Linked DNA regions of Homo sapiens. The protein of the gene in region 2 purifies or fractionates together with the protein of the main gene of each other region. This does not show direct contact. Each region holds a gene or a part of one and is shown on either strand. Other genes may lie near its edges.

Region 1 (5,088 bases), on a different chromosome or scaffold from region 2:
TGACCTCAGATGATCCACCTACCTCAGCCTCCCAAAATGCTGGGATTACAGGTGTGAGCCACCGCAGCTGGTGAATTGTTTAGAGAGAATCTGAAATGCATTATGTGGTATTTGAGAGAATGTTATTGAATTTCTATCTCTTTTTCAGTGGAAGAAGTTGTTCCGAATGTAATTGAACCTTCCTTCGGCCTGGGTAGGATCATGTATACGGTATTTGAACATACATTCCATGTACGAGAAGGAGATGAACAGAGAACAGTAAGTTGTTGTGTACAGTGTGCTGTTATAGTGTCAGAAAATAAAAATTTTCTGAATTACATTGTGAAGTACATTAATAAGACTCTAGAATGGTCAATTAGTTATTACTATAATCTAGTGCTATTAACACTCATCTTTGCTTAAGTATGTATAGACAAACCAGTTTCCTGTGTTATCTTATTTGAGCTTTAGGTTATTCTAGAAGCTATTGTTTTAGTTGCCTGGTGCTCTCTATTCTTAGACTGAACCTATTACTTTGGGGAACAATCTATATTATGTCAATGGAAGGAATGGTACTTTCTGGATATGCTGTGTTTCAGAAAATTGGGAAGGATGAGATAACTCCTAGAATTTAGCCAGACCACTAAGCTGTATCTGTACTCTGGTAAAGTATCAAAGGGAACCCTCTCAAACTGCATGAAATTGTCTGGGGTACTTTTGGGGTAAAGATGTGAATTCCTAGGTTCTACTCTGGAGATGCTGATTCACTAGGTCTGAGACCCAGGGATCTGGGGTTTTTTTAAAAAAAATAAGAATCCTGAGTGATTTCACTGTGAAAGCTTGACAGATCATAAATGGGATAATAGTTGTCTGGGGTATAGCCTTTCCTAGCATTCAAGTATTGCTGAAGATAGAAGTTTATAAGAAGTCTTCATCAGCTCCCACAAATTTTCTTTTCGGTCTGATGCTTCTGAATCACTGCTCCTTGCCTTCTTCCTCTTTATCTCCTTGCCTTACTTCACCATTTTTACCTCACCTCTGCCTGCAGAAGTTACACTCCTGGGCAGATTACTAGGAAAGCCAACCAGAAGAATGGCTAGAAAGGAGAGGTTGTATATGTCAGGTTAATTGAAAGAAACAGCGTCATCCACTTGGCCATTCTAAAGCTTGAGTGTACGTAATGTTAGACATCAACCGTGTGGTTCTTTCTAGGACATTTAACCTCAAAGAATGAACTAGTGAGTTCTCGGCACCAGTACTTTAGTCTGACACACTATTGTAATACATAGCTAATAAAGTTAGTATGGTACTCTCTGCCCTAAAGTTGCATCTTCATTTCCCAACCTTGAAGGAGCAGCCCTATTCATTCAACAGATTGTAAGAACCTGGGCTAGGCCCCAGGTGCGCAAACATAAGGCTTGGTTCTTTTTGAGAAATGATGACAAACATAACTGCATGTGTTCTTTTTAGATGTCAAGTCTGCTTCAAGCTTTGTCTGCTTATTTTTCTAATAAAAAGGTTTTAGAAAATCTTTTAGCTGTTCCTTTGAATCTAACAATATTAATATAACTAGAGCTTTAATAGAAATTTCGTAAGGGCTAAACAAGAATAAATTAGTCACAGTGTTTTATGAATTGCATGAATTCCCATCATGAAGAGAAATTTGATTAGGCTGTGGGAAGCCAAAAATGTTTCTAAATTATTAGCACCTAGTTCCTCAATCCATTTGCCTATAAATTTGGTATAAAAACATTGCTAGTGAAATTTTAAAAATTATTTTTCTATAAAGGCAGGTCCCTGTTACTCTCTTATATTAAATAGAAATATCACAAGATGGAGGAAGGGAATAGAATTCTGAACCTTCTGTGATGTGAGCAGCCATATTGGTGGAATACAGGCCTTACTTAGAGTGGGATATTCATTGCTTGGCAATAAAGGTTAATTGAACTTTGGGTGAGAGGCTAAACTGGAACCTGTGTCATTCATTATTTTTATGGGACAAATTTATTCTGTGTTTTTGCCTTCAAGTGAACCTTTTGTACAAGTATTAAGAACTGCCTTCAGTTCCCATTTCCAACCTAAAGTGGTTGATTGGTTTGCCTTCCACAGAATATTTTTATTTTCGCCTTTTTTTTTTTTTTTTTTTGGTCTCGCTTTGTTGCTCAGCTGGAGTGCAGTGGCACAATCTCAGCTGACTACAGCCTCAAACTTCTGGGCTCAAGCAATCCTCCTGCTTCAGCCTCCCAAGTAGCTGGGACCACAGGTGCGCCTCACAATGCCCAGCTAATTTTTTAGTTTTTGTAGAGATGGGGTCTTGCCATGTTGCCCTGGCTGGTCTTGAATTCCTGGGGTCAAGCAATTCTTCTGCCTCAGCCTCCCAAAGTGCTGGGATTACAGGCATGAGCCACTGTGTCCAGCCTTATTTTTGCTTTCTTTGATTTCTGAGTTACTCAGAAACTATTTCAGGGCAGTTTAAGAAGGCTGTACTTTTTAGTGTAGGTATATGGAACATCTTTTTTTGTTTTGTACTATTTCTTTTGGACATATGTTTGTGAGCTAATTAAACTTTTCTGTTTCACTTGGTCACTGAGGTTCATAGGTTTTTCTCTTAAAAGACAGAATGGGCTTTGGTTTGGGTCACTGCCACTTGTTTGAATATTTAGGTAGTCTCCACAGAAAGTCTTTTATGTGGAACCAAAAAATTACCGTCTTTTATATACAGTAGCTTTCAGAATGCTTTCACATCATTTGACTTTTTTAGTAACGGGCTTGTGAAGCAAGCAGAGCAGGTGGTAGAGACCTGCTTTTTAGGTGGAGAAACTAAGGTTCAGAAAGAGTTCATGACTTGGCCTAAATTCGGAGCTGAAACCAGGTGTTTCTGATGCTGGTTCTGCTTCTCTTTTGCCATACTGCTTTTCATGTCATGTTTTCTGGCATTTTGGTAATGACGTTATGCTTGAACACTTGCTGAATATTAACCTCTTTTGGTTTGGGATATTAGCATTTAGATATTTACAAATTAACATATTTGGATTTTTTTCTTTTTAAATCATCCAGTTCTTCAGTTTCCCTGCTGTAGTTGCTCCATTCAAATGTTCCGTCCTCCCACTGAGCCAAAACCAGGAGTTCATGCCATTTGTCAAGGAATTATGTAAGCAAATTCAATTGGGTAAACTCCATGGGAACACCATCAAGGAGACTGAATTTTAGGAAATGTATCATTTATTTCAATAAAAATATAGACTGAATAAAGAATATAAATGATTTTATAAAGAGTACATGATTTTAGCCTGTACTCTTATTTCTAAGCGAGAGGATATGCTTGCTCAGATGTTTTATTCTGGCATTTGAGTGAGGCAAGGTAGGACCCAAGAGTCAGATTTAAAAATTATTTACTTCTCATACTGACCTTGGTGCCAAGTTCATCGAGGGAACCTGAGTGGAGTGTAGCAACCATAATGGATCTACAGCCACAGAATCCACAGCCCTGAAAGGAATCCTGGTGGTCATCTGGCACATCCACTTATTTCAGAGCTGGGAAATGGGGAGAGTCCATTGACCTGCTTAGAGCCATAAAAATAGAGGTGGTGGAGTCAGGACTCACCTTCTGGCCTTGGCTCTTGGTCCCATATTTGTTCCCCCTATAGCTGTATCAGATGGAGGTATGAGTGAAGATTTGGATTCCCGCAAGGGATTTATTAAACTTTAGGGATATTTCTTTCTCTTGCAACTCAACTTGTTGCTTTCTTGTCTTGGTCCCATTTATAAGTCTCCTGAGCTTGTAAGACAGTAGTTAGATAACACTGGGCTTAACTCCATTGTTTTATTTTTAATTTACTTTGTTTATTTTGGATAGCGGAAGCCCTGACCAGGCATGGAGTATCTCACAAAGTAGACGATTCCTCTGGGTCAATCGGAAGGCGCTATGCCAGGACTGATGAGATTGGCGTGGCTTTTGGTGTCACCATTGACTTTGACACAGTGAACAAGACCCCCCACACTGCAACTCTGAGGGACCGTGACTCAATGCGGCAGATAAGAGCAGAGGTATCTGGCCTTCTCTTTGGCATTTTTAGCCTTAGAAATGTGTACTGCTTCTTACTGATTTGTGTTGGATTTTGATGTGTTTATGCTCCCTTTCCTTTTTTTTTCTTTTTAATTTTAATGAACGGCTTGTATCAGACAGAGCCCAGATTCTCAAGTCCCCCGGTTTAATTATGAAAATATCCATTAGCACTTCTCTAATATTTTATAAACATTTGTGTTGCTCCAGGCTTATTCTCCAGCAGTTTGCTTTTATACTTGTTTGTTTATTGGGCAAGAGAAATATGATCCTAAGAATTTGTTGCCATAGTTTTATTGGTAGGCTTTGGAGGGTTAGACATTTTAATGTTTTATTTTTACAGACGCGTATACATGTGTATGTATAAGCTTTTCCGTGTTCATATATTCAAAACAGTGAATCATGTTTCAGTAGTTTTGGTCAATAGGAAGGCAGTAATGGAGATGGTAGAAGCACAGAAGGAGAAGGATGAGTGGTAAGGGAAAGGAAAGAGTAGCTGCTTTAATTGACATCTGCCTGCCTAATTTATCACCTTTGAGCACATACATCAAGTGCCTGTTCTGTGCTTAGCTTGATACAGAAGTAATAGGGAAAACAGAAGCAAAAGACTGCTTTTTTTTCTGAAGGAGTTTATAGTCTAATCCAGAAGTCGTGAATTTCTAGCTTGACTTTTTAGAGACCATCTGGCTACTCTGGAGCTGTGTCCCCATCTGGGTGTGGTTCTCAAAAGTGTGGTCCCTAGACCAGCAGCATCAGTATCCCCTGGAAATGTATGAGATAAGCAAAACCTCCACCCCAGACCTACTGCATCATAAACTGGGGGTGGAGAGGCAGAGGGGGCAGGCAGAACTTTCTTAGTTTTAGCAAGACCTCCAGATGATTCTGACGTGCACTCAAGTTTGAGAACCATTGCTGTGTGGCAGCCAGTGTTTGGTTTTGGCTGAGGAACAGTAGCCTTGGTCAGAGCTCTCCAGTTTGCCAGTCTTATGTAATTCCCTCACACGAGTTACTTGACTGAGTCCTGTTTGTTCTAATAGTTAAATTTA
Region 2 (5,088 bases):
CCCCACTGTCCCCTTTCTATGCATTTCCCTTGAGCAGTATTTGAGAACACAGTGGCTACGGTGATGGCTCTGCGCAGGGAGAAGATGTTCGTGGAAGAGGTGTCCACAGGCCAGGAGTGTGGAGTGGTGCTGGACAAGACCTGTTTCTATGCTGAGCAAGGAGGCCAGATCTATGACGAAGGCTACCTGGTGAAGGTGGATGACAGCAGTGAAGATGTGAGCCAACAGTTCTTCCTTGTTAGCCGAGGAGGGCCAGGCGTGGAGCCGGGGAGCTGCTTTTGCCCCACAGTGCTCCAGGCCTTGGGAGCAGACCTGACACACCTTTGGGTTGGGTTCCATGGTATTTCTGAAGCCGAGGGAGCTGTTGCTTGTACCTGTTGCTTTCCTGGCCATCGGGTACCCTCGTAGGAGTATTTTTGCAGCCAGGGTACAAGTTTCCTACAAGCTTTGCACATTAAAAAGGAGAGGCAGCTCTCTGAAGGGGAGATGTCCTTGTAGAAAACTCAGCCTCGAGCTCTGCCGCTGCTGAATGAGTTACTTTGTCTCCCTAGGCTTCAGGTTCCTTATGGAGGCTTTTAGATACTCAAAGATGCGGCTGGGTGTGGTGGCTCATGACTATAATCCTAGCACTTTGGGAGGCCAAGGCGGGTGGATCGCCTGAGGTCAGGAGTTCAAGACCAGCCTGGCCAACATGGTGAAACCCTGTCTCTACTGACATACAAAAATTAGCCAGGTATGGTGGTGGATGCCTGTAATCCCACCTGCTCGGGAAGCTGAGAGGGGAGAATCGCTTGAACCCAGGAGAGGGTGGTTGCAGTGAGCCGAGATTGCGCCACTGCACTCCAGCTTGGGTGGCTGAGCGAGACTCTGTCTCAAAAAAAAAAAAAAAATTCTAAGATGCTCCTTAATATTGGTTATGTCTGTGTGTGTGCACAAATATATTTAATTTTTTTTTTTTTTTTTTGAGATGGAGTCTCGCTCTGTAGCCAAGGCTGGAGTGCAGTGGCATGATCTTGGCTCACTGTAACCTCTGCCTTCCGGGTTCAAGCGATTCTCCTGCCTCTGCCTCCTGAGTAGGTGGAATTATAGGCACTTGCCTTCACGCCTGGCTAATTTTTGTATTTTTTTAGTAGAGATGGGATTTCACCATGTTGGCCAAGCTGGTCTCGAACTCCTGGCCTCAGGTGATCTACTCACCTGAGCCTCCCAAAGTGCTGGGATTACAGTCATGAGCCACTGCACCTGGCCTATTTAATCATATTTAATGATATTAAGGGAGTATGTGTGTGTGTGCAATTTACATATGTAAAGAGAAGTTATATACACGAGTTTATATTGAAAATATAAGAAAATTTGTATGTTTTTAAGGATTTATTTATTGGTCTCTTCCTTGACCCCTCTTAGAAAACAGAGTTTACAGTGAAGAATGCTCAGGTCCGAGGAGGGTATGTGCTACACATTGGAACCATCTACGGTGACCTGAAAGTGGGGGATCAGGTCTGGCTGTTTATTGATGAGGTGAGTTGGGTTACTGTGGCCCCCATTGGATCTGGTTAGTAATTATCTTCTCCTCTGGCTTTAAATTGTCCTGTCACTGTTGGGCCGGGTGTGGTGGCTCACACTTGTAATCCCAGCACTTTGGGAGGCCGAGGCGGGTGGATCATGAGGTCAGGAGATCGAGACCATCCTGGCTAACACGGTGAAACCCCGTCTCTACTAAAAATATAAAAAATGAGCTGGGCGTGGTGGCAGGCGCCTATAGTCCCAGCTACTCGGGAGGCTGAGGCAGGAGAATGGCGTGAACCCGGGAGGGGGAGCTTGCAGTGAGCCAAGATCCCGCCACTGCACACCAGCCTGGGCAACAGAGCGAGACTCCGCCTCAAAAAAAAAATTGTCCTGTCACTGTTATCACTCCCTAGTGTAAGTAGACCGCAGGGGTTAATTTAGGTGCATTTGGTGGATTGTGAGGGATGCAACTAAGAGTTAATCTATATGTTCCCAAGTCAGTGATTTCACCAGTGATTTCAGTTAAGATCCCGTGGACTTGTTTTCACGGATTGCTTTTCTAACGTCACCTACTTCTTTGGGAGCCAAGGATGCTGAAGAATGAAGAGGTAGGCTCTGGCATGTGACAGAGCTCCAGAGTAAGAGTAGCTTAAAACCAGGATAGCAGTGTATGTTCTAAAAAGCTCAAGCTGATACGGAGGCTCTGCCCCACAGTCAGAGGGCCTGGTTTCTCCTCACCTGTCACTCCACCTTCTTTCCTGGGGCATTGCCTTTGATTTCCTGGTTCAGAGGATAGCTATCAGATCCATTGTCTAGGCCAGGGGTTGGCAAACTTTGTGTAAATAACTGGATACTAAATATTTTTGGCTTTGCTGACCACATGTTCCTGGTGATGAGTACTCAGCTCTATAGTTGGAGTGTTCAAGCAGCCATTGACCATATGTAAATGAACAGGTGTGGCTGTGTTCCAATAAACCTGTTTATGGCTGGGCACAGTGGCTCATGCCTGTAATCCCGGCACTTTGGGAGGCCGAGGCGAGCAGATCACCTGAGGTCGGGAGTTCGAGACCAGCCTGACCAACATGGAGAAACCCTGTCTCTACTAAAAATACAAAATTAGCCGGGTGTGGTGGTGCATGCCTGTAATCCCAGCTACTCAGGAGGCTGAGGCAGGAGAATCGCTTGAACTCGGGAGATGGAGGCTGCAGTGAGCCGAGATCATGCCATAGCACTCCAGACTGGGCAACAAGAGCGAAACTCCTTATAAAAAAAAAAAACTGTTTATAAAAATTTATAAACACATACATTTGGGGAGGCTGAGGTGGGAGGATTGCTTGAGGCCAAGAGTTTGAGACCCAGCCTGGGCAACAACATGAGACCCCATCTCTACAAAAAAATAAAAAATATTAGTTGGGGGTAGTGGTGTGTGCCTGTAGTCCCAGCTACTTGGGAGGCTGAGGCAAGAGGATCACTTGAGCCCAGGAGTTTGAGGTGGCACTGAGCTACAATCGCGCCGCTGTACTCTATCCTGGGTGACAGAGCAAGACCCTGTCTCTAAAAATGAAAAGACAGATGACAGGCTAGATTTAGCCATCGGCCGTCATTTGGCAATTCCTGTTCTAGGCGGTGGAAAAGAAATGGGAGGACCTGCCCCATCCCTTTAATGGTAGACATCACTTCTGTTCAAAACCTTTTGACCCGAACTTAGTCACATGGACACACTTAGCCATAGGGAAGCTGGGAAATGTAACCTTTATTCTGCACAGCCATATTTCCAACTAAAAATTGTAGCACTCGGGGGAGCAGATAACGAGGAGATAACTAGCAGTCTATTACAGACCTCTCCATGAGCCCCTCTGCCCTTTCCAGCCCCGACGAAGACCCATCATGAGCAACCACACAGCTACGCACATTCTGAACTTCGCCCTGCGCTCAGTGCTTGGGGAAGCTGACCAGAAAGGCTCATTGGTTGCTCCTGACCGCCTCAGATTTGACTTTACTGCCAAGGGAGCCATGTCCACCCAACAGATCAAGAAGGCTGAAGAGATTGCTAATGAGATGATTGAGGCAGCCAAGGTAGGATGGGCGACGGCTGAATGCCCCCCCTCCCCACACCGTCACTGTCTGTCCACAGTCTTAGCAGTGCGGTGCTCTCACTCTGTTGTATCAGATTCGTCCTGCACGTAGATTTGCTTAAAGCAGGCTGGGCACGGTAGCTCACGCCTGTAATCCCAGCACTTTGGGAGGCCGAGGCGGGCGGATCACGAGGTCAGGAGATTGAGACCATCCTGGCTAACCCTGTCTCTACTAAAAATAGAAAAAATTAGCCGGGCGTGGTGGCGGGCACCTGTAGTCCCAGCTACTCAGGAGGCTGAGGCAGGAGAATGGTGTGAACCCGGGAGGTGGAGCTTGCAGTGAGCCGAGATTGCGCCATTGCACTCTAGCCTGGGAAACAGAGCGAGACTCCGTCTCAAAAAAAAAAAAAGTTTGTTTAAAGCAGTGATTCTCCATCTGTGCTTTTGCCGGGGGCAGTGGTGGTGGTTGGTGGAGGGGAGAGGGAGAGGCATTTGTCCCACCCCACCTTGGGAGAACCAGAGCTGTTCTAGTTAAGTCTGTTCACATATGAGATTTGGTCCACAGTTTAACAAAATAGTTGGAAATTCCCATACTGATGCCCTTGACTTTGCACGTGGCGTGTGATTGAGGAAGCTCATGGCACGTGCTAGGCCAAGCCAGGTTGGAACCCGAGTCCTGCCTGCAGGACCATGCTTTCCTGCCTCGTCGTACCGCACCTCCAGGGATCTCTTCCAGCTCTTTTCTGTCTTCTTGGTCTGGCAGGCCGTCTATACCCAGGATTGCCCCCTGGCAGCAGCGAAAGCCATCCAGGGCCTACGGGCTGTGTTTGATGAGACCTATCCTGACCCTGTGCGAGTCGTCTCCATTGGGGTCCCGGTGTCCGAGTTGCTGGATGACCCCTCTGGGCCTGCTGGCTCCCTGACTTCTGTTGAGTTCTGTGGGGGAACGTGAGTACTGCAGAGGGGCAGAGTAGACAGGTCATCTACCTTCATCCTCTGAGGATGTAGGTCTTAGGCTGGACCAACTCTTGTCTGTCTAAGGTTGAAGTGAAGTCCTCAGAAATGCCGTTGCTAAATAGCGTTCCCAAGAATCTCAGCATCCTAGCATGCTCATTAGATCCCTGTATCTGAAGGTAACATTTCCTGACGAAACATTCCCAGGAGGAAAAGGGGGAAAACATTGTATTCACATTACCACACAGTTGCTTGCTGTTGTTTGCTGGGCTGAAACTAGCAAGAAGGCTTGTGTGAATTTGGGATTCAGCAAGGCCTGGAGTGCTTGTTGAGCTCTTGATGTGGGCCTAGCCCTTCCCATTCCTGGTATCTCACCTAATTTCCTTTGACAGCTTGGGCGGCATCTGGGGAATGTAGCTCCATTGTCTCAGAGCCCCCGAGCAGGCCACGTGGTTGACTCAGCTCAGTTTGGCTTGGGATAGCCACTTCTGCCAATTTGGATTCCTCTGTATCTCTCTGGGCCTTTTTGGGAAGGTCATGGTGGCCTGGAAAG

Evidence for each region. Proteins that work in one complex are often made in the same cells at the same time.
Region 1: the proteins of AARS1 (region 2) and GARS1 fractionate together in Homo sapiens (co-fractionation; 2 studies listed by BioGRID). This does not show direct contact.

Annotation. Positions count from the first base shown.
Region 1 is NC_000007.14:30,628,412-30,633,499, forward strand, and holds part of GARS1 (glycine--tRNA ligase isoform 1 precursor), read left to right. Parts: intron 1-148; coding exon 149-258; intron 259-3,036; coding exon 3,037-3,130; intron 3,131-3,835; coding exon 3,836-4,026; intron 4,027-5,088. UniProt on the Homo sapiens protein: Catalyzes the ATP-dependent ligation of glycine to the 3'-end of its cognate tRNA, via the formation of an aminoacyl-adenylate intermediate (Gly-AMP).
Region 2 is NC_000016.10:70,257,474-70,262,561, reverse strand, and holds part of AARS1 (alanine--tRNA ligase, cytoplasmic), read left to right. Parts: intron 1-37; coding exon 38-216; intron 217-1,404; coding exon 1,405-1,518; intron 1,519-3,375; coding exon 3,376-3,582; intron 3,583-4,344; coding exon 4,345-4,529; intron 4,530-5,088. UniProt on the Homo sapiens protein: Catalyzes the attachment of alanine to tRNA(Ala) in a two-step reaction: alanine is first activated by ATP to form Ala-AMP and then transferred to the acceptor end of tRNA(Ala). Also edits incorrectly charged tRNA(Ala) via its editing domain.